Regions from separate parts of the Homo sapiens genome. Here regions 1 and 3 are each linked to region 2. Evidence: fine-mapped expression QTL. A gene starts in region 2. Each other region holds a variant in brackets. All regions are shown on one strand. Distances are from middle to middle.

Region 1 (8,182 bases), 790 kb before region 2:
CCACACGGCCCTGGAAGCGGAGCCTGTGTTCCTGCTTCCCTGTGTTCCCTATGGTGCCAGTGACATGAGTATAGAGACTCTGGGAATACGTGTGGGGGATAATAGGGACCCGGAAAGTGGGCTCAGACACATACTGATATTATCAAAGTGAAGGCAAATAGTAGACCTGCAGTCATAGTCACCCTCAGTTGTAAGAATACATATGTGTGGATATAGGCAGGGAATTTAAATTTGCTTTTTGTTTTTGGCAGGGAGCAGGTGTTAAATCTAATGAGCTTACATACCAAGTGGGTTTAAAGAACAATTGACAACCCCAGAGACATGCAGGGCCTGGAATCAAACAACAGGCTGGCTGCACTGCTCAGAAGGTCAGAGTCAAGGTCCTGGCTTTATCCCGCTGAGGGCCACACCATCTCTTATGTGACCTCTGGAGTAATATAAGTGTCACAGGAAGGGCCTGATCCCAGAAGGTTTGAGTTTCCGGTAAAAGCGTCAGGGCTGCCTCTGGTGGTGGATCTCTCTGCGCGTCTTTTCCAGCCAGCATCCCCCCGCACATGGCTTCTGCTCCCCGGCATCTCCAGCTTCCTCGCCAATTCACTAAGGCTCCAGCCCCAGCCTGACTGGCTGGCCTTGCGGTTTGAAGGTCTGTCATCATCCAGCTGCCTTGGACTCTTTGGGGTCCAGACTCCTAACCCCTGGTGTGGACTGATGTTCACCTTGGTCCTGCCAGCAGGAGAGGGCAGCGTGGGAGGAGCAGAGGCTCACATGTCAGGGACTGTGGGGCGGGGGGGGCTCTGTCAGGGGATTTGGGTGGGAGGCCATGAGTGGTGTATCCACTCCAGTTTGGAGGTTCCAAATGACCCAGTGTGGATATCTTATTTTTCAGATTGATCGTGTCCTGTGCTGAAGATGTTTCCGGAACAACAGAAAGAGGTATGTCATCACAAATCCAAAAATAAATAACCCACTTATTTTGATTCACACAGGTTAGTTCTTCATTTGCGAACCATAAACCCATGGGTTGCTTGAGGAGGTTTCATGAAAGACCAAAGGCCCACCCTCCTGTACCTGCTCCTCTACTCCCACCATTGGTGCCTGCATAGCCTTCATTTTGGGTTCCAGTGACTCAGCTGTGGAGCACATTCCCACCCACAGCTCGTGACTCAGAATTCTCCCAGGCTCTGCCTCCCACCCCTTGGCTTGGAGCAGTATCCATCCAGTCTGCCTTCCTGCTTTTTTACTCCATTGACTCATCCCTGAATTCTCCTTCCTTCAGGTAGCAGCCCAGGGGAATTTCTGCCATTAGTTTCAGGTTTGCCCCACTTGTTGCCTGGGCTTGGTTTCATACAACACTGGCAAAACTGGCCCTTCTGCCTGCAGCCTGGCTTCCCAGGCCTCCATGCCCGCCCCCTGAGCCTCTCCCTGACTGGGAGGAGCGTAGGACAGCCCTCATGCCAGCCCCGGCTGAGTGTCCCTCCTTTGGCAGTACGCATTGCCCTGCCTGCTGTGGTGCAGTGCACATCATCACTTGGTGAGGCTGATGAAGTGGAGAAGCAGCACAGGGGCCTGTCTAGGGAGTGTGCACACACACGTGCACACACATGCACACGAGTCACACATTCACACAGTCACATGGTCCCAGCTCACCCTGCACAAGTGGAAAGCATGAAACCATTTATTTCAGAGAATCTTTCCAGAAAGTCCTTTGCTAGCTCTCACATCTTTAATTTCAGCCCTATCTTTGGCTTCAGGTTCTTCTCAGCAGTCCAGCCTTGCTTGCATCCCTTAACTCTAGGCTGGGCTTCCCCATTTTCAAAGGCAGTGTTTTGGTTTGTTTTTTAACTTTTAAAAATTGGGCTAGACGGGCATGGTGGCCTGTGCCTGTGGTCCTATGTACTCAGGAGGCTGAGGTGGGAGGATTGCTTGAGCCTGGGAGCCAGAGGTTGCAGTGAGCCAAGATTACGCCACCACACTTCAGCCCCGGCGACAGAGCAAGACCCTGTCTCAAACGAAAAACCAAAAACCAAAATAATTGGCTGGGCACCATGACTCATGCCTGTAATCCCAGCACTTTGGGAGACCGAGGTGGTTGGATTACTTGAGGTCAGGAGTTCGAGACCAGCCTGTCCAACATGGGGAAACCCCATCTCTACTAAAAATACCAAAATTAGCTGGGCGTAGTGGCATGCGTCTGTAGTTCCAGCTACTTGGGAGGCTGAGGCACAAGAATCTCTTGAACCTGGGAGGTGGAGGTTGCAGTGGGCTGAGATCATGCCACTGCACTCCAGCCTGGGTGACAAAGCGAGACTCTGTCTCAGAAAAAACCCACAAAAAACAAAAAAATTGGGCTATAATATGTATAGTAAAATGCATAAAGTGTTCCAATCTTATGTATGTAGCTCAATGGATTTTTGTCTTTTTGTTTTAGTAGAGACAGGGTCTCTCTTTGTTGCCTAGATTGGTCTCGAACTTCTGGCTTCAAGCAGTCCTCCTGCCTCAGCCTCCCAAAGAGCTGGGATTGCAGACATGAGCCACTGATCATGGCCTAAATGGATTTTTATATACCTGTGTAACTACCACTCAGATCAAAGTATAGATGTTTCTGGCTCCCCAGAAGGTACCGTGTGCCCTTTTCCAGTCAGTCCCCCTCACTTCCACCCCTAGAGGTGACCTTCCACAATACCTATACCAGGCATGCTTTTTTCCATCTCATTTTAAGTAATCCTGAGACCAAGCTGCTTGTTCCGGGAAATACCCGCCCATGAAGTTAATGAAACTGCAAGGTTAAGGGCATAGTTCCCACAGGACTGCCCTTGTCTTCAACACCAATTGCAAGCTTGGGGCTTTCCTGAACCACCTTCAAGTTTAATAATTCACAAGAAAAACTCACAGAACTCAGAGCTATTATCCTCACAGACGCTGCTTTTTATAGAGAAAGAACACAAACGAGAACCAGCCAAAGCAAGAGCTGGACGCATGGGCAGTCAGGTGGGGTCCAAGGACAGAGCTTCTGGTCGTCCTCCCAAAGGAGCCATGGGCGGAGTTATCCTCCCAGCACCCATGTGTGGCAGTGTGCAGAGTCACTTGGTGTAGCTGGAATGATCGCCTGGCGTCAAATCCATTGCCCTTAGAACAAAGTCAAAACACCTGCACGTGGTCTCTAGCACTCTGCAGGATCCAAACCTCCTTCTTTCTCCAGACTTCTTTCCTGTGCCCCACCTACCACTCCAGTGCACTTCTTGTTCCTTATTTCAGAGCTTATTTTAGAGCCTTGAATGCTCCATGCACTCTGACCCCCATGGACTTTTACAGATGTTTTTTTCCACTGCCTGGAATAATCTCTTCCCCTAGCCTTTGTACTGTGTTGACTGGCTAACTTCTACTTATCCTTCAGGCATTGGCTTAGAAGTCAAGAAGAAGCTTTCTAAACCTTTAACTATAAAAGATATTTTTATCTAATCAGCTCCTCAACAGCACCCTGTAGTCAATGCCAGTTAGAAATAGAGAAGGTTTAGGTCAAGCCTTTCATATCCTAGTGTCTGGTTGTTTAGTGGAAAGTAATTCAGGTTCCACCTAATCGAATATGTAAGGACCAAATGCAGTATGACTGATTGTTTTGGAATCTAGACCAAGGGTACAGTGAGTATGGAAGCACTTTTCTCTCAGTACCCACAGCAAACATTACTAATTAATCATGAGGTTGGCACGTGAATTGAGATTTATTTACCATCCTCGTAACAAGATTCATACAGCCTGGGAGTGACATCTTGGTTCTGTCTAAATGGTAGTACTGACCTTAAAATTTAGTAATTTTTTTTTTTTTTTTACATTTTGGGGGTGAGGAATCAAATGTAGTCTCTCTTGTTAAAACAGCTTTATGACTGTAATAAATCTAGAAAGAGGAGAAAAGGGAGTGAGAATCTCCCTTGTTAGTTAAGCATGTTCCATTTGCACATTGGTTTGAATTCCCAGGAGAGCAGTATCC[G/A]AGCTGATGGATCTTCTCCATAAAAAGGCCTTGGCATTGGGCCATTGTGAAATTAAAATGAATTCAGAGTCATTCATGCATGCAACTTTAATTTACAATTAAAATATTATGGTTACATATTTTAATAAGAATAATTAGATGGACCCAACTGAATCAACTCTTCTGTTTAATGAGACAGAACCCAGACTCCAAATGGAAAGGCAGGTGGCTGTGACAGGAAGCGCATTTCAGACAGTGTCTTTTGTGGAGCTAGGCATTTTTATTCTTTTTATATTCGAATGTCCAGAGTGAGCTGTTTGATTTTTCTACACTACTCAGGATGCTTGCCTCAGCCTTGCTGAACTCATCTTGTGGGGTGTATGAGTGAGCATTTGCTCCAGCTGCACACAGTCCCTTTCATGGAGTCGGACATTCTTGCCCAAGCGCCTGCTCCCTCCTCCATAAGGGCACTGGGCTCTTTCCTTGGCACAGGGCTCACTTGGTGTAACTAGACTGTTCCTCCCTGTGTGATGTGACCTGAAGTGTGGGCTGAAACCCCTTTTGAATGTATGTGTGCATGCGTGCATATCTCCCCTGCTCTCCTGGATCATGATGGCTGCATTCTACTTTTAGAGATTCATCCCTTTAGGATAACTGATTTTCCCCTTCCCAAATGCACATGCTTCATACTAGGTATAACAGCAGCTTCTAGGCAACTCCAGTTATTGACACCTTAGCGATGATATATCCATCACTTCTTTGGCAGGGAATATCCTGAGTAGGACAGGCCGAAGTGGGCCCCAGAGAGTTGCACAAACCATGAGGACCCCACCACTGAGGGAGGAGATGGGGCACTATGGGGAGAGCCGGCAGGGAGGGATGTGTTGCCATTTTGGATGAGCAGCCCCTAAGGTTAATATTAATATGTCTAAGATATGCTTATGCTGACCCATGGTAATATTTTGGACTTCCTCTAGGAAAGCATGCTTTTGATATTCGGAAACTGACTGGAAACTGACTGGTCTGGAACTGATGAATACCTTTAACAAATAAATAATATTAGCTAGGATCCTGTGATGCTGGGTACTTTGATGGGAAGCAACAAGACAGAACATTTTCTCACTCCCCAAAACCTAAATTTGTTGTTCCTCTCTCCCTCCTTTCTTCCTCCCTTTTTCCCCTCCCACCCTCCCTCCCTCCATTTTTCTCAGTCTCTGTTATACTCAGTTATTAAGTGTTCCTGTTTGAAAAAATAGTTAAGTTTCCATAAGAGGCAATTTACAGTCTTCTGTAAGCAAAGAAAGGCAGCTGGGAATATTGTCTTCACACATACACACCAGGTTTCAGAGAAGGCTGTTACCATTCTGAGCGCTACATTAGTGTTACAGGTACTGTGAGGACTCTGATATTTTTTTCTGAGCTTGTCCCAGAGAAAGATCTTCATTCCTTTTTTTTTTCTTAACTCTTCTTCCAGATTTTAAAATAATTGTTCACTGCAGAACATTTTTGGAAAAGTATACAGGAAAAAATAAAACTTTGAGCTATTTCTTTCTAGTCTTTTTCTATATATATGTATATGTCATTTTTAGAAAATTGAGATCATACAGAATTTATAGTTTAATATCTCACTCTTCCAGCTCAGTGTTCTAACACATTTCAAGAAATACTTCACCAGCTCTGATTAAATTAGAAGTGGCTTAGGAAAAGAAAGAATTAGTAAACATAAATTCATCTTTGAATTGTTAAGAAATGAACAAAGAATAACTTTACAGTGGAGAAATCTGACAAACACTTCCTCAGCCAGGTGATCACTGTTAACACCCACAGTGATGTTATGTTGCTAGCATGTGGAAGTGATATCACCTGGAAGTGATAAAAATGGCACTTTACCCTCTGAAATAGGTAGCCTTCCTTCCAAAAACCTATAACACCAATCTAATCATGAGACAAACATCAGACAAATCTGCAGAATACCTGCGAGGGCTCCTCAAATTGTCAAGGTCATGAAAAACAAGGAATGCCTGAGAAGCTGTCATAGCCAAGAGGAGCCCAAGGAAACACAATGACCAAATATAATGTATCTCGAGTGGGATCCTGGAACAACAGATTAATGACATTAGGTGAAAACTAAAGCAATCAAGCAGTCTGGTTTTTTTTTTTTGTTTTTTTTTTTTTTTGAGACCGAGTCTCTCTCTGTCGCCCAGGCTGGAGTGCAGTGGTGCGATCTCGACTCACTGCAAGCTCCACCTCCCGGGTTCACACCATTCTCCTGCCTCAGCCTCCTGAGTAGCTGGGACTACAGGTGCCTGCCACCACGCCCAGCCAATTTTTTGTATTTTTAGTAGAGGCGGGGTTTCACCATGTTAGCCAGGATGGTCTAGATCTCCTGACCTCGTGATCCGCCCGCCTCGGCCTCCCAAAGTGCTGGGATTACAGGTGTGAGCCACTGTGCCCGACCAGCAATCTTAATGAAGTATGGACTTCAGTTAATAATAACATGTCAATATTGATTAATGAATTGTTACAAAGGCAGCATGCTAATATAAAATGTTAATAATAGGGGAAGCTGGGTGTGGGATATGTAGGACCACTCTGTACTATCTTCATAATTTCTCTATATCTAAAACTGTTTAAAATAAAAAGTTTATTTTAAAACAAATATCATTGACATATATATGCTCACATAAAAAGATTCTGAAAGATTGTATAGTGAATAAACCAATAAACAAAATAGTATTTATAAATGTAGGTTATGCTCCTGTTTGTGTTAAAAAATTGCATAAAGCTGGGTGTGTTGGTGCATGCATGTAATTCCAGCTACTTGGCCAAGGCGAGATCACTTGAGCCCAGGAGTTCAAGGCTGCATTGAGCGATCATCAATAGCCACAACATTCCACCCTATGCAATGGAGTAAGACCTTGCCTCTTCAACCCCCAAAACAAAAAAATACGCAAGGTAGAGATGATAATAAAATGAACCCCCATATGTGTACCTACCAACCAGCTTCAACAATTTACTAACTCATTATTAACTCATAGCCGAGCTATATCCCCACCCCACCTATTTCCTCCTGCTACCACAGTCAATTATTTGGAAACAAATTCTAGATATTATATAATTTCATCTGTAAATATTTCAGTATGCATTTCTAACAAATGACCTTTTTAAAAAATGAACCACATAATCACATGTTAAATAATTAAACAATTCCTTCATATCATCAAATATTCAATGTGCAAATTACCTTGATTATTTTGAAAAAAATTATATACTTGGTTGTTCTAATTCTCTATTTAATTAGGATTCAGATAAGGACCACACATTGCATTTGGTTGATACATTGTTTAAAGTCTTTAATTCTCTCTTTTCCCCCTTTTGCAATTTATTTGTGGAAGAAATTGCATCTTTTGCCTTATGGAGGTTTTCACATTCTAGATTTTGCTGATTGCATCCTTGTGGATGCCAATTATTTCTTACTGCAGAAGAGGAGGTTTTTTTTTTCTGCACTTTTCCTGATGTGTTACAAGATATGAAAAGGTAACTCGCTGATTTGGGATACTACTTGTGTAAAGAAACTTGCAACATTGTGAGCTATTATAAGTCATGTAAAAGGCAGGTCTAGCTAAATCTCATTCACAGTTGTTTATCCTGAAGTAATAAAAGCTTCTCAAAAAATCATCATTCAGTACCACCAGAGGATGGTATTTAAACATACTCCATGCTGTAGAGTGGCAAGTAATATCCCTTGTCATATGTCTCTTAAGTTATTTGTTACAGCTGTTATTAGGAAATAAAGAAAGGTTGCTTGATATATTCCTTTTGCCCTTCTATTTTGTTATTTGTAAAGAATATAGTATATGAAATGTGCTAGATTTTAGTTGTGAAATTGTTATATGGGGGTCCTGAATAGCACTCTGGTGATTAACACACTGGTAAATGCTTTTTTTTTTTTTTTTTTTTTTTGGTGGGGAGACAGAGTCTTGGTCTGTCGGCCAGGCTGGAGTGCAGTGGCACGATCTCAGTTGCTCACTGCAACCTCCGCCTCCCAGACTCACGCAATTCTCCTGCCTCAGCCTCCCGAGTAGCTGGGATTACAAGTGTGTGCCACCACACCTGGCTAATTTTTGTATTTTTAGCAGAGACGGGGTTTCACCATGTTGGCCAGGCTGTTCTCAAACTCCTCACCTCAGGTAATCTGCCTGCCTTGGCCTCCCAAAG
Region 2 (8,182 bases):
GAGAATTCGCCTGTATGTTGAGGGGGAGTGAATTTCTCCAATCTTAATGTTATCCAGGGGGCCGCCTAAGTTGCCTTCTGAGGGTCCTGTGCGTAGATGTTTTTAATTCTACAAAGAAGGAGAGGAACAGGAAAGAAGAGAGGGAGAAGAAAGGCAAAGCGGAAGAAAAGAAAGCGCTTTAACCCCTTTCAATTAGCCTGGGGATTCAAAGACTAAAGTTAAATCCGGCCATAAAGTTTATTGCTTCAGACTCACAAGCGGCTGAGAACAGTCCCGCCGAAATAAAAAGAACATGCAGGCAAACAGGGTTCAGGGCCTGGTCCCGGGTGCGGGGGAGGGGGTCCTGAACACCCCCCCACACCAGGGTGGGGATCCTTGGTCCTCAGGGTCCAGTGGGCGCTAGCAGCCCAGGATCCACCTTGCAACCCGGGGGCCCAGCCTGGAGGTGCAGCCCCAGCCTCGCCGGCCTCTGCCACCCTCCCGCTCTCGCGAGCTAGCCTGAAACCCGGCCCCGAAGGCCGCCGCCTCAATTCAGCCCTGCCAAATGACCCCGGCCCGCGAAGACATATTGCCACAGCCCCGTAAGGAATCCCGCCAGAGTCCGCCTCGGCCCTGCCCCGGCCTTTCTTTCAAACTCCTGAGCGCAGCGCGGCCCTCGGCGCCCGCGGCCGGCGCCCCACTGTCTCCCAGCCCCGACCCCAGGGCTCCGCGACCCCCAGGAGCTGGCCCCGGCCGGCCCAGCAATTGCGCGGGGGACTGGGGGTGCGGCCCTGCCAGGTCCCCACACACAGGCCCATTCGCACACAAAAATCATCTTTTTGCACGCCGGCGGGAGCAGCGGAAGTCATTAACATCCGCGGTTGTGCTGCAATTAAAGTTAGGCCTGGGGATGCGGCGCGGCCACAGGCGCTGCTCACTCTGCTGCCTCCGCAGAGTTGGCTCCTGGCGCTGCTCTTTTGGGCAGAGGGAAAGTTTGCTCTGCCTTTTCGAATTCAGAGGCAGCCTGAGTTATTGAACCAGAGAGAGAGAGAGAGAGAGAGAGAGAGAGAAAGTTTCCAAAGTACAAATAAACTTGAAAGCGCTCAGGAGGCGAGCTTACCTTAACTCGGAGGGAGCCATTTTTCAGAGAGTTTTGAGAACTTGTGGTTTGGACACTTCTGGACCTAAAATTGACAGTTTGAATGGCCAGGCGGCACACGTAGCCTGCAAAAGAGTCAAATGGAGTCCAGCGTTAGTGAGATTATATGTTATGTGGTATATAATGTTGGATGTCAACTCCCCAAAACCATAAAACTTACTTTAATGGCCCCACGTGACGTTTTATAGCCAGTGAGCCGATCTGTCTGTGCTATGGATGATTTTACGATCTAATTCATAGACAAAACCCTATTCATTTGGCACCCAAATGTCATATAGCCGGAACTGGGGCTTATAAAGTTTACTGTTTTATAACTTTTAAAAGGAAAGACGGCATCAGTGTAAGCAGTCGGTAAATGTGCAAATCTCTAGTTGCGCTTTAGCTGCTCTGAGGAGTTTCCCAATCGAGCTAGGATGGGGTAAGTACCTTCAATTTGTAGCAAATTAATTGTAGCAAAAGAAGCCAACTGGGTCCCGGGTGAAGAGTGGGGAAGGGGTGCTGGGATGGGTTAAGGGCAGAGGGTTTGGGGTCCACAGACAGACATAGCAGCGTCTTCAGCAAGTGGAGGCCTAGGACAGCCTTAGGAAAGAGGCAGGATCTGTGTGGCCTGAGGGCGGCTAACAAAGCCCTGGGTTTTTTCTCCTTTTTTCTTGCTCTTTCTCTCTTTTTTGTACCCAGCAAGTTAACTTGGTTTCCTCAGAGATGGACAGGGTGTTCTGGGGCTTTGGAACAGCCTACAGCTTTTTCCACCTTCTGCCCTGAACTTTGCAATGGGTCAGAGGTAGGGAAGCGATGGGACAGTGTTGGTATGAGGTCTCCCTGCACAGGTCATCTGCTCAGGTAGCCTCAGACCCAACAGCTTCCAAGACTGCACAGACAGACAGAAAAGCAGACAGAGCCGCTCACTATTTGGCACAAACCAGACCAAGAGAACTTACAATAGAAAGTTTATTTTTTGTTCCAGTCAGTATTTTTTCCTTAAAAACAAATACAAAAAAAAAAAAAAAAAAAAAAAAGCTGATCACAGTTTGCTTAAAACAGCCAGACTTGGACAATATTTGTAACTTTGTTCACAAAAACATACATCACTGAAGCTGCGCTTATAAGAGCCACTTCCAGAGTTCGTGCAAAGGGTCCTATAAAGGCACGCAGGGACACACCGCTTGGAGTCACAGTTTTCATCACAGAGTCACTAGTCACTACACGTCGAACAAGTTGTGTCTCATCAAGTCACCTCTACAACAGCATTAATTACACAAGGAATATAGGTAGTTTGAATAAAAATATCTTTAACAGCTTGGAGCTATTGAGACAGGAACACTTCCACGCACATGCACAGTTAAACAACTTGAGTGCAACACACAACATTGGCACTAAACGAGATTGAAGGGGGACTTTTTGTGTGTTTTTTTTTCTCTTTTCTTTTTTTGTTATAGTTACTTCAAGTAACACAGCTTGCTTCATATAAATAAGTTAAAACATCTATTTTTTTTCAAGACAAAGCCATTCAGGACAAAGAGATGAACAGAAAGCAGATCTACTTATACAGGCGCTATAATGGCAATAAACAGGCTCATGATTAAAAGATGAATTAGGGCAACGAGAACAGGGCTTCTTCACAGAAGGAACACAAGGGAGTTTCAGAAAGTCACCTTAGTACTGACACTACGCGGGATCCGCTAATACTGCTCAGTACTTTAAACGCTCAGATACTCAGGGACGGAAGGCCCCTCCTGCCGCGGCCATGCTCATGCTTTTCAGCTTATTATCTTTTTTCCACTTCATTCTCCGGTTTTGGAACCAGATTTTAATTTGTCTCTCGGAGAGGCAAAGAGCATGTGCTATTTCAATCCTCCTTCTGCGGGTCAGGTAACGGTTGAAGTGGAACTCCTTCTCCAGCTCCAGGGTCTGGTAGCGCGTGTAGGCCGTCCGGGCCCTTTTGCCTTCCGGGCCGCCTATGTTGTCTGCAATAGAAAAGTCAGCGGTTTAGCCACCAACTCCTGTCTTCCAAAGTCCGCCAGGGGGACAAGCTTGGGTCATGAGCAGGGAACCCAGGCGAAAAGCTCAACAAGTTCTGCCTACCAGCCCGCACACCCCTCCCGAATTTCCTTCTCTCTTCCTTTCTAGAAAGAAAACAATACGATTTGGACCCTGGGAACAATCTGCCCATCTGAGGCTGGGGCCGTGTCCCGGCGGACTCCGGCTTTCCCTGGCCCCTCTCCTGCCCCCTCCGCCCTGCCCCGGGCGCCCCGATCGGGAGGCACAGCCCTCCCAGGCTGCCCACCGCACAGAAACCCAGGAAGCAAGGCCCTTTCCTGAGCGCCCAAGTGGCCTTCGGGTCACCCTCCCTCAAAGTTCCAGCCCCGAGAGCCGCCTCCCGTTTCCAGCCTGCAGGGTTGGGGAGCCTGTTTTCTTTTTCTTCCCTTTCCTTCTCTCTCCCTCCTGCCCCCAAAATTCAGAATCCTGCAGGCTCTCGCCTCGATTCTTTCCCCCAAGCCCCTTTTCGGGGGCTGTAATTAGTAACGCTGTTTCCCCAGCGTAGCCCTCCTCATAAATTATCCGCCGTGACAAGCCCGATTCACGGCTGCTACAGCCATCCTCTACCTCTCTGCGCCTTGCTCGGCTGGCCTGACCCGGGAGCGCGTCCCAAGGCGTGGGGTTCCAGAGGGGTTTTTTGCTTCCTCCCCCTTCCAACGTCTAAACTGTCCCAGAGAACGCCCATTTCCCCCACTATTTGTGAGCGCAGGGTGCTCGCAAAGAAGAGGAGGAAGGAGGAAGGCAGGGGAGGGAGAACGGCAAGGAGAGCTCCGCAGGGCTGGGAGAAATGAGACCAAGAGAGACTGGGAGAGGGCGGCAGAGAAGAGAGGGGGGACCGAGAGCCGCGTCCCCGCGGTCGCGTGGATTTAGAAAAAGGCTGGCTTTACCATGACTTATGTGCAGCTTGCGCATCCAGGGGTAGATCTGGGGTTGGGCGGGCGGCGCCGGGCTCGGCTCGCTCTGCGCACTCGCCTGCTCGCTGCTGGCAGGGGCGTCCTCCTCGGCTCCGGACGCCGTGCCAACCCCCTCTCTGCTGCTGATGTGGGTGCTGCCGGCGTCGGCCGAGGCGCCGCTGGAGTTGCTTAGGGAGTTTTTCCCGCCGTGGTGGCTGTCGCTGCCGGGCGAGGGGGCCACGGCGGAGCAGGGCAGCGGATCGGGCTGAGGAGAGTGCGTGGACGTGGCCGGCTGGCTGTACCTGGGCTCGGCGGGCGCCGCGCTGGCGCTGGCAGCGTAGCTGCGGGCGCGCTCTCCGGAGCCAAAGTGGCCGGAGCCCGAGCGGCCGACGCTGAGATCCATGCCATTGTAGCCGTAGCCGTACCTGCCGGAGTGCATGCTCGCCGAGTCCCTGAATTGCTCGCTCACGGAACTATGATCTCCATAATTATGCAACTGGTAGTCCGGGCCATTTGGATAGCGACCGCAAAATGAGTTTACAAAATAAGAGCTCATTTGTTTTTTGATATGTGTGCTTGATTTGTGGCTCGCGGTCGTTTGTGCGTCTATAGCACCCTTGCACAATTTATGATGAATTATGGAAATGACTGGGACATGTACTTGGTTCCCTCCTACGTAGGCACCCAAATATGGGGTACGACTTCGAATCACGTGCTTTTGTTGTCCAGTCGTAAATCCTGCCTGATGACCTCTAGAGGTAAACTCGTGCACTAATAGGGGAGTTGGGTGGAGGCGAGGGGGGTGGCGCGCGCGCCCCGGGCGCGTGCCCGCCGCCAGTTGCCGCCGTTCAGCCGGACTCGAGCGCCACCCGCTGGAGGCAGGGCTCATCGCCCAGCTTCCGACCGGGGGCTGCAAGGGCCGGGGTCGAATTGAGGTTACAGCCCATTATGGCAAAATTATTGCATTTCCCTCGCAGTTCCATTAGGATGTACCAATTGTTAGGCCGTCAGCTGCCGATCGCGCGCCCGGCGAGGATGCAGAGGATTGGGGGGAGGTGGTGACTTGCATTTTATTTACAACAACTTTATTTCCCCCGTTTTGCAGCCCCTCTTATTTTTGTGTCGAGGTTGGGGTCGGTACTGACCGTCCTGCCAGCAGCTCTGAATTTTGAAAATACAGATATCACCTTCGGGGAAGGGGGAAAGCCATTTAGCCAATTGGAGAAATAAATCCTGCCCGCAGCAGCAGCAGCTACAATTACGGCTCTGTTTTTGCGAGCGCATGAGGGACAGTGTCCCTGCCGCTCTTAAATGACAGGCGTCTATTAAAGATAGCTTTTGTGTAGTGTTTCTCCAAGGCGAGGTCAAATTCCATACACTTTTATAACCGTAGTCGATTTTTCTTTCGTGTGAATATGGTTTTCGTGTCATTAGTTTGCGATTTGATTTGCTTACGTATCCAGCCTGGAAAATCTTCATCACAGGGTCCGGTTCCTCGAGCCAGCCGGGCCCCAAGTCGGAGGGTTCTCCTTGAACCCAGCGAGTGGGCCCAGGCTCCCTGCAGCCACAGAGGCTGCCTGGGGTCTGGGGATCCGTGGGGCGGGTTACTGGGGTCTTGCTTAGACCTCCAGGAGTAAAATGAGGGCGATAATGGAAGCATTCCTTGGCAGTGCCTAGTATCTCTGTAGTTATTTTCCACGGCTCCGAAAGACTCAAGTAAATCACAAATATAGCTGAGAGGCAAGTGGAGTCTCCCCGCTGGAGGCCCGGCGTTGCAGGCGCCCCTGGCACGTCTGGAAGCCAGGACTCTGGCGGCTCCCATGGCCCTGGGCCCCTCGTTGGGTCCTGAACGCTGCTGTGGCGGCGACGCGGGCGCTATCGGAGGCTGGGAGCGGGAATCCGGAGCCGGGAGCCTACCCCGGGCTGTAATGTTCCACCCGCGCCCAGGTTAACTCGCCTCGGCTGAGGCTGCTTCTCTTCCACTGACGGTTGCACACGCGGGACCGAGAGACTGGGCTCTGTTGGGGCCCCCTTTGTTCCTCGAGCTTCCTTCCTGTTCTGGGAGGCGGCTTGGGAGGCCGCGACAAGGCCGGGCTCCAGCTCTTAGACCCCCTCTTTCCACTGGCCAGAGATGATTTGATGATGCCCTTCGGGACTTACTGGCGAGGGACTTAGGCAGAGACGCCCAGACACGAAACGGGGCTCGGCCCAGGGCTCTTTCCTCCCCAGCAGCCCCGCGTCCCGAGGTCGGGGAGCTCAGAGACACTAGCACAGGAGCCCCAGACGCATTCAGGGCGCACCCCAGAACTCCGGAGCCGGTTTGGGCATCCTTGTGGAGCGGGACTGGGTGTGTGCAGTGCGCCCCGCTCCACCGCTGGTATTGGCTGTGTGTGAGGTTTTGTTTTGTTTTGTTTTGTTTTGTTTTGTTTTGTTTTGTTTTGTTTTGTAAGAAATAAATGCACAGACGCTTGCAAAGCTCCGGGCTCCCCTGAAGCTGCGGAAGCCCCCAGATGGGAGCAGGCGGGGAGAAAAGTTGGGGAACAGGCGAGGGCAAGGGGGCAAAGCCGAAGGAGGTTGCAGCGCTGGCCTGGTCCCTGCCCAGGCATCTACTCGCCCGCCTTTGCCTCTGAGTCCTCCCCGCTGGGCTGCGTGGAATTGATGAGCTTGTTTTCCTTTTTCCACTTCATGCGGCGGTTCTGGAACCAGATCTTGATCTGGCGCTCGGTGAGGCAGAGCGCGTTGGCGATCTCGATGCGGCGGCGCCGTGTCAGGTAGCGGTTGAAGTGGAACTCCTTCTCCAGCTCCAGTGTCTGGTAGCGCGTGTAGGTCTGGCGGCCTCGGCGCCCATGGCTCCCATACACAGCACCTACGAGCAGAAACGGCCGGGCGCCGGTAAGCCAGGGCCTGGAGGGTTGACCCAGTCAGCCCAGTGCCTCCCACAAGAGGCACCCAGACTAGAAACCACCCCGCCTCCACTCCAGCCTCTCCCACTATGTCTGGGGCCCAAAGCATACTGAATGGGAGATTATTTCATACCAAGCGAGATGTTTTCCACCTATAACGACTTGGGGTGGACATTATCGTTTTTGAAAAATCTGCCTCATAGGAAAACCATTACAAGCAAAATAACAGAATGAGCATTCTTAATTTGGGATGCCCAGGTCGTGTTTTTGTGGGGATGCAGGGTGTGTGTGTGTGTTTGTGTGTGTGTGTGTGTGTGTGTCTGGGGTGGGTGGTGTGGAACCATGTAAGTAGTGTACACACTCTGAATTCATAGTGGTCTCTCTGAGGATGCTACTGTGACCAGCCATGTCGGAACTCAACACATTTTTTGAAGAGTTAAAAATGGTCAGCCCTCTTGAATCTTTACACATTCTCCCAAATTATATGACCCTTCTGAGAAATGCAGAACTCCCCCAAGGATAAAGTGGATGTTAATGGAAAACATTATAATTTTAACAATCCGCATTAGGCTCTGTCCTAGGGAATTCCTAGGAGTCTTTGGGATTCCCTGTGGAGTCCTTGGAAACCAGAGGCTAAGAGATGGAGCTATAGGTAGTCTAGGATTTCTGGCAATGTAGGATTGTGTTGGGCTGTCTGATCTGGTGCCAAAGTTCCCCAAGGGTGGTGGGGGGTCCCTCCAAGACAGGTGTATGAAGCTCAGGCATGGGCTCAGAAGAGGGCAGAAGTTGGCTAAGAGTGGGCAGTTGAGTAGAAGCCGGGGGAGATGAGGGAGGAGAGAGAAAAAAATCCTGAGTCTGGGGCTGTGGCCCTCCAAGGCTTTGGGGAGACACTGGAAGAGGCCAAATGGCCACCTCTCTGTACGGGTTTCTGAAGGGCAGAAAGGAGAGGGGGTTGGGAAGCAAAGGGTATTTATCAGTGACGCAGTGCAAAAGGCCCTCTGGCTTGGGAAGCTGAGCAGGGTACTCAGGGTGCATGGACAGGCTGTCCCTCCCCACCAGCCTCTCTCTCTCTTCAGGCTGTCCCTGTCACAGGTCTCATATACGTGCCAGTGCCCCCATCCTCCCCTAAGGTGTCAGCTTACATGGACACTGGGGCCTTGCCCTTCCTCTGCCATGGCCTGATAGCCCCATTGGGAACTGATTTTTTCTTC
Region 3 (8,182 bases), 230 kb before region 2:
CTCAATAAATATTTATTGAATTAATGAATAAACTCTTTAAAAAGTTTAAACTCACGTATCATTTCATTGCTCTTTTTGTATCGTATTAGCAGACATTTGTGGTTTTCATTGCCAAAAAACAAAAAACACAGGCCAGGCATAGTGGCTCATGCCTGTAATCCCAGCACTTCAGGAGGCTGAAGCAGGAAGATCACTTCAGCCTAGGAGGTCAAGGCTGCAGTGAGTCATGATCGCCCCACCGCATTCCAGCCTGGGTGACAGAGCAAGATGCTGTTGCACAAACAACAACAACAAAACCCCAATGTGACCTAAATGTGGTATCCTGTTCCCAATAGTAGTTACTTTCAAAAAGAGGTAAAACCTCAATGTGAATCCAGCCACTTGCTCAGAGGAGCATCATAAGGAAATAAGAGAAGTCCTTCAAAGCTCCTAGTGAGCGGAGATCAGCTTGTACCCTGAAGCATGAGATTCTATTAGTACCTTTTGTTAGTATTCATAACTAACAGTATTATGACTGGTCATACAATTATCTAGCTTTTCTAATTCATCTCTTGACTGAATCTATGACCTCCCAGGCTAATAAATTCCACAGGTTGGCCATACATTGGGCAAAGAAATATTTTCCTTATGCTTTTTAAATTCTAAATTTATTTCAGCCATTAATTTTACAGAATGAGTGACCCTTGTCTTAACAGTTGGAAGACATAAAATTAAGTAAATTGGACCTCCAATAAGAATGTCATTTTAGCAGTTTTGTGTGGTAATGTTTCATTTATCACGTGAACATGTGGCTGTGTTAGAAGAGTATCAATAGGTAATTATTTTCCTTTCAGATTTTTACTTTCACAGTAGAACAGAAAGGAAATTTCAGGATAAAGATAAAGAGAAAAGAAAGAAAACAAACAAGGGATATATGACACTGTCTGGATCATGGACTGCTATCATTCTACCTGTGTTCTTTAAAATTGCTATGTTCTAAGATAATAAGATAAAAAAAAATGGATTCAATCAGTTTTAAAGCTGAAATTTTCCTGGGTAACAATAACAGCATTTGACTATGTTTATCCCTTAGATTAGAAGCAAATGAAAGAAAAAGGATTTGCTGTTGACGGAATTTTATTCTTAAGGCTAATGGTGCCTGTAAAACAATTAACAAAGTATTTTTTAATATAATTACTGCCTGGGATCTGTGTGTATGTGTCATTTTTCACAGTCTGTTTCATTGAAATGTATAAGGTCAGCTAATAAGAAGCAGTTTGCTGGCCAGGCATGGTGGTTCATGCCTGTAATCCCAGCACTTGGGGAGGCAGAGGTGGGTGGATCATGAGGTCAGGAGTTGGAGACCAGCTTGGCCAACATGGTGAAACCCCATCTCTACTGAAAGTACAAAAATTAGCCGGGCATGGTGGAGCATGCCTGTATTCCCAGCTACTCGGGAGGCTGAAGCAGAAGAATCACTTGAACCCGGGAGGCGGAGGTTGCAGTGAGCAGAGATCGCGCCACTGCACTCCAGCCTGGGTGACACAGCAAGACAGCAAGACTCCGTCTCCAAAAAAAAAAAAAAAGAAGAAGAAGAAGAAGCTGCTGTCTGCTGCGTGATTAATCAGGAATCAGGTTGGGGGCCTCAGTAGGATTAAGCCTTGGAATAAACAAGGATTATTTATTTATTTAGCTTTGGTAATTTGGAAAAGCTTTACTCACTGAACTAATCACAAATTTTTTTGTAAGAACACAAGATTCCCCATTATTTAAGTTTACACTCCTGATAACCTCTTTTTTTTTTTTTTTAGACAGGGTCTTGTTCTGTCACCCATGCTGGAGTGCAATGGCTCGATCACAGCTCACTGCAGCCTTGACCTCCTGGGCTCAAGCAATCCTCCCACCTCAGCTGGGATAACAGGCATGCATTACCATGCCTGGCTAATTTTTGTATTTTTTGTAGAGATGGAGTTTTGCCATGTTGCCTAGGCTGGCCTCAAACTCCTGGGCTCAAGGAATCCTCCTGCCTTGACCTCCCAAATTACGGAGATTACAGGCATGAGCCACCACATCTGGTCCCAATGATTATTAGGAATAATACACAATCTTAATACAGAGCAAGAAATGGTGGACATTGGGGAGTAAAACAGTGAAGCATTTTGCCACTGATGGGTTTCAGAGAATGAAAATGTGCACACTGATAAAATAACTAATATTGAAGATTATAATGTATTGTTAATCAATATCTGCATATGTTGGCACACATGCATTAGAAAAAAAAATTACAGCTGGAAAGAATTTTGCAATCATATGGCACAACTTCAACATTTCAGTGAAGAGGAACTATGAACCTGAGAAGTGATGTGTACAAGGTAACAGAGCTACTTAATGGAAGGCAGAAAGGTTGGGCAACAGTGCTAACTTTCTTCAACAGCAACAATTCTGCCTAGGTCATAATAACATCTTGAAAAAGGAGAACCCTCTGACATGTGACCAAAGTCTGGTCACCTTTAAGATTTCACCCCAGGCTGTTTTTTGCTCAAGCCCAGATAAATCTGCTCTCTTTCTCCAGAGCCTGGAATGCTAGAAAGACTCTTTTACTTTGGGCACAATCAGTGGAAAAGCAACTTAGAAACTTACAAGGAAAGAGTTGCAGTGGTGCTTCTTCCTCCATAATCTCCCTGCCAAAAGATTAGAGTAACTAAATTCTTTTCAGTAGTGTAGCCTTCAATACATATGACAACACTCATGAGTGTGTTGATCTAATATATACTAAGATATTATTTCTAAAAACGTATGATTCAAATTTTCTTTATATTATGACAAATAATTATAATATTAGGTCACATATTATGGGTCTGGCCAGAGGCATGGAATCATGCTACTGTTGCTTCTACTACCACTAGTTCTCTACTCTATAGAGATATTTTTATGCTTTGTATGTCATTCTGTCACATGAAGTGTGTTGTAATGAGTATATTTATGAGTCTAGCCATTGGGAGTGGAAACTGATGTATTATGTAGCCTTGCACCTCATGTGCAGCTGAATTATAATGTAGATCTTAACAGCCAAGAAGTCTGTAATCAGAGAAAAAAAGAATTTCAAAACATAAACTATGTTCTTGGCACTAGCCTTGAATACTGGACATTCATAACCCACAAGTGCCCAGACTATAAATTTGCAAGTTGCATTAATACGGCAGTAAAAGTCACTCTTCTGAAAGCTGCACTTGTAAAATATTTATAAATTCACATGGTTGTTCCTGGCAAATATCTACATCTGTCAGCTCTGTCTTTTTGCTCCCAAAGCAGCAGAGTTGGTGTCCTGTGTAATTCACAATATGTTCATAAAAAATTATTTTGAAAAATCAAGATAGAAGATATTTTATTCTAAGGGGCAATATATCTGCTCCTCCAATGGTATGGTGTTACTATTTGATCTCCTGAGATCCTTTCTCATCAAGTCTTTTTCTCTGAACAAGATTCCAAATTAGCAAGGCAAGTCCTGTGGAGTTGTCTTTAAAATCTCACATTAATATGTACAACACAGGCCAGGCACGGTGGCTCACACCTGTAATACCAGCACTTTGGGAGGCTGAGGCAGGCAGATCACCTGAAGTCAAGAGTTCGAGATCAGCCTGGTCAACATGCTGAAACCCAGACTCTACTAAAAATTCAAAAAATCACCAAGGGTGGTGGTGGGCACCTGTAACCCCAGCTACTTGAGAGACTGAAGTGGGGGAATCACTTGAACTCGGGAGGCGGAGGTTGCAGTAAGCGGAGATGGCGCTACCGCAGTCCAGCCTGGGCAACA[C/G]AGTGAGACTCAGCCTCAAAAAAAAAAAAAGAAAAAAGTACAACACAGTGGAGTTTTTCCTTCCCAAGTCAATATGTATATCAATGTCACATGGTAAAGGAATTTTCTATGTACATAATCTCCCTATAGTATTTAGGAGATGCTTCATATAGGAGACCTTCTAGATAGACCTGTCTAGATAATTTTTTTTTTCTTAAGCCAGGAAAAAAAATTAAAAGACATCAGATTACATTTTCATATAGATGTATACCATACCGATGTAGTCCATTATTTCTAGTGGGGAGAAAGCCCCCCAAAATCATACCTACTAACAGACTGAGTACTTGACAATAAAATATGCTGTTGTATTTGTATTTGTTTAATTTTTACTGCCATCTAGCTTTTCCTTCCCTCTCTCCCCATGAAAAAGGATTTAGGGGCCGGGCACGGTGGCTCACGCCTGTAATCCCAGCACTTTGGGAGGCCAAGGCAGGTGGAGCACAAGGTCAGGAGATCGACACCATCCTGGCTAACACAGTGAAAGCCTGTCTCTACTAAAAATACAAAAAATTAGCCAGGAGTGGTGGCGGGTGCCTGTAGTCCCAGCTACTAGGGAGGCTGAGGCAGGAGAATGGCATGAACCTGGGAGGCCAAGCTTGCAGTAAGCTGAGATCATGCCACTGCACTCCAGCCTGGGCGACAGAGCAAGACTCTGTCTCAAAAAAAGAAAAAAAAGAAAAAAAAAGAAAAAGGATTTAGGTTGTTTATAATGCAAACATAATTGTTATAAAGACAGAACAGTTAAAGGTGAGATCAGAAATATAAAACACCAGATAGTATTATAGTCCTTAAATTTGGGGAGATAATGCATCCCTTTGAGAATCTGATGAAAACTTTGTGCTCTTTCCCCAGAAAATGCAAATAAGTATATACAAACAAACAAAACACATAACACACACTTTTGTATACTAACTCAGGCATTCAGAGACCACCAACACCATTCCACAGACCACCACAGAGGAAGGAGAAAGAAAATGTATATCAGGAAACTAGAATAAAATTATTAGTACCATTAAGCATGAAGTTTAGCTCTAACTTTTAGTCAATACAGAAGGGAGAATTCAAAGGGTTTCACAGATCTCAATGTTTAACAGAGAAATACACATCAGGTTTTCAGGAGACATATTTTGAGAGGAATTTGTCGGGCGGATGAGTCTCGGATTTATTTTATTTTTTATTTTTTTTGAGACAGAGTCTTGCTCTGTCACCCAGGCTGGAGTGCAGTGGCGCGATCTCTGCTCACTGCAACCTCTGCCACTTGGGTTCAAGCGATTCTCCTGCCTCAGCCTCTGGAGTAACTGGGATTACAGGCGCCCGCCACCACACCTGGCTAATTTTTGTATTTTTAGTAGAGATGGGGGTTTCACCATCTTGGCCAGGCTGGTCTTGAACTCCTGACCTTGTGATCTACCTGCCTCGGCCTCCCAAAGTGCTGGGATTACAGGTGTGAGCCACTGCGCCTGGCCTCAGATTTATTATTAAATACACGATGCGCAATGCCTTTAACAGGAATTTTGCAAAAACGCAAAACTATTTTCACATGGCCATTTTTACATTGTTCCCTTAATAAATCTTGAGGATATTCTTAATAAGTAGTAATTCTTATGAGTAGTTATACCAACTGAGCCTAGATAATCTGGCTTCTGTATCTGACCTGACATAGCAACAAATGGTTTCTCTCTAGAGAAAGCTCCAGTATTCATAAGGCGCAATGTGCTTGCAGCAGCCTTCCTGGAACTACAACTAAGAAGCTGCAGCATCACCAAGGCCTCCTGAGAAATTGTACAGACTCACTAACCCACATACCTGGCAGGACTCATGTGTCAAAAAGGTGACTCTAAGCAAGACGCCAAGAAATACATGAATTTAAGAGGCAAAACTAAAAACTATAAATAGGTTAGAGTGTGAATGAAGGTGTACCCGCCTCGATTTCTGCTCACTGTGGAGAAGCCTATGGTTAAAGCACTGATCTTATTTTGTCCGTTAAAGCCCCTCCAATCAAGTATATGACCTGGGGATGGGAACACTGATTCCATACCAACTGAGGAGTAGAAGAATTCAAAGCTAAAGAACGAAGAATATTATTGCAGATTAAGAATATCATTAGACAGAAATTGACTGTCTGATTATGTTGATTCATCACATGCTATGCTGGTGATCAGCAGCCCAAATGATATACATATACCTTTTTTTTTTCCAAAGAAATTGTCATGTAATCTTTTTATAAGCAGTATGGACTGATACCTTACCAAGCCAGAAGAACAAAATTTCTTTTTCAGATGCTTATGACAAAAGGACTTGGAATTATCTGTCTAAATAATGTCAAAATAGCCATTATTTCCTTCCACAAATGAAGGAACAGGATTGGGGATTAACTTTGTGGAATTCAATTAATTTTGCACTTGGCATAGTATATGGAAACAGTTTACAACATTTGGGCTTGGAGACTCTGGGTTGAATATTTAAACCATTGCTTGAGACATAATCAGTGGATAGAAAATTCTAAGAACAGCAGCCCTACTCCAGAACTTCTAGTGGGTGACATCTGGGGTGAATTAAGTTTCTGTTCTGTCCCAGCTTTAGCTACAGATGTGGAGGTGTAAATGTGCTTTCCAGGAACTGTAGATTATATGAACATGATGTAGACTACTTTTATTAGGAGTTCAAGTACCACATTTCCAGAAATATAAAGAATGACAGCAAGGAAAAAGGCCTTTAGAGCTTAAATTACAACCACATCTAATGAACTCAGAGGTGTTTTTCACTTACTAGGGTATTGCTTTTCAACTCCTGTAGCTTAAATGAATCTAGTGATCATAACAGTAAATATGGTTTCCAAAGGTATCCCAAGAGGTATCATTAGTCACATATTACATCCTTTTCTAATTTGTACACTTTCCATGTTTCAGGGTTTCACAGGACTGCTGAAACCTCCAGAATTTCATGTTTCCCTCAGCAGTCTACAATAACCCTTAATCTGAATGACATGTATTATTTCCTCAGCAAACATGTGATGTGGGAAGCTTAGTAAAAGATTTATTATAAGAAAAGGCTCGATGTTTTATTTCCTCCCCTAATTGAATTCATTATTGCTCTCTGTTTAGAAATGCTATGTTGATGTATTACACCTCAGAACAACTATGAACGTGCCATCTGCAGCAGGAAGGTTTATTAGACTACAAATCAGGATACAGATGTTGGAGGGAAAGCTACGTATGCTAAGTCATAATACATTAAAGCACATTTTAAATCTATATATCATGGTGGTCCAGCAGATTTTTATTTTTTTAAATTAGGTATTGGTACTTATGAAAATTCAGGAACTAGAAGCCCTCTCTTCATATGCATGATAGATAAAGTGATAAGCTGCTGAGGTGATAAGTATAACCCTGTAGATGGGGAAAAGGACTAAGTAACTTCAAAAGAAAAAGCTCACATTCTTATTCCGTAATACTAGTGAAAAGATCCACATTTAAAGTCGGCATTCTAAACCAAATGAGCAGATAAGTCTTTTGGGAGTGTAAATGATCACAGTTTTATTGATCTTTTTCACAAATTTAGATTTTCATCCATTTACTAGAAGAGCATTTATTGAGTACCTGTTACTTGCTAGGTGACTCTAGGATGTGCTCTAGGATTTTATTAAAACGAGACTCAGTTATATTATTTTGATGTAAGAGGAGTTGTTTAATTTTTCTTTCTTTCTCCAACTGTTCAAGTTCAGGCCCAATAATGGACAAATTGCCCGCAGAAAGTTTACAAGAATATATCAACTACTTCATTGGTTGAAAGAATTAGAGGAACCTTGGTCAGCACAGCTGAGAGGATTGCTTTCCTGAGAGATGACATGATTCTCTTCCATTAGGCTCACAAAAATATAACTCAATTGTATCAATCTTAAACAAATAAAATCTAGGATGCTCACATTTTCTAGAAGGATTAATGTTCTGTAGATCTATTGATCTTCTACATTCTTCTTAAAGTATCCAGGGTAATCATTAACAATACTTTGTTTTGATTTACTTGCCTGGTGTCTGAGGCTCTTCCAGCTCTCTACAATACATTTGCGCTTTATTCATGATGCTTATTCTGTAGATAAAGACAGCACATTACTGGCATTTGTAACTGGGAGGCTTAAAATTTTTAAACATAAAATTAGAGATAATCTAATGTTTAGATTAGGGTTAGATTTTTAAATAGGGTATAGAACTTCAAAAGAAGGTGGTTTTCTCTTTCCCTGGAAATATTCAGAAAACAGTCTACCTTTGGTCTTCCAGGAAGCACAGACAAGGGCAATGATTCAAGAAACCACTGTAAAAATGCAGATCTCACCCAGTAAAGGAGAGTATC

Evidence for each region. PIP is the estimated chance that this variant, and not a neighbour inherited with it, causes the effect.
Region 1: its variant is fine-mapped to the expression of HOXA5 in sigmoid colon (GTEx, PIP above 0.99).
Region 3: its variant is fine-mapped to the expression of HOXA5 in whole blood (INTERVAL, PIP above 0.99).

What each region holds. Positions count from the first base shown.
Region 1 is chr7:26,345,534-26,353,715 of GRCh38, forward strand. It overlaps SNX10 (sorting nexin 10), which reads left to right. Exons shown (of 7, transcript NM_013322.3): 2 at 887-933. The coding sequence starts at 910. Among named protein-coding and RNA genes, the nearest start is that of LINC02981, 49 kb to the right of the region's middle. RefSeq lists enhancers at 74-1,001, 2,928-3,077. The variant G/A (reference allele first, on the strand shown) is at 3,986.
Region 2 is chr7:27,138,984-27,147,165 of GRCh38, forward strand. HOXA5 (homeobox A5) reads right to left here and starts at 4,698. Exons shown (of 2, transcript NM_019102.4): 1 at 4,063-4,698; 2 at 2,069-3,102. The coding sequence starts at 4,624. The coding sequence ends at 2,852. It overlaps HOXA3 (homeobox A3), which reads right to left. Exons shown (of 6, transcript NM_153631.3): 2 at 1,100-1,203. HOXA6 (homeobox A6) reads right to left here. Exons shown (of 2, transcript NM_024014.4): 2 at 6,413-6,934. The coding sequence ends at 6,675. It overlaps HOXA-AS3 (HOXA cluster antisense RNA 3), which reads left to right and starts at 1,381. Exons shown (of 3, transcript NR_038832.1): 1 at 1,381-1,556. RefSeq lists an enhancer at 527-1,105.
Region 3 is chr7:26,910,152-26,918,333 of GRCh38, forward strand. No RefSeq gene overlaps it. Among named protein-coding and RNA genes, the nearest start is that of SKAP2, 50 kb to the left of the region's middle. The variant C/G (reference allele first, on the strand shown) is at 3,794.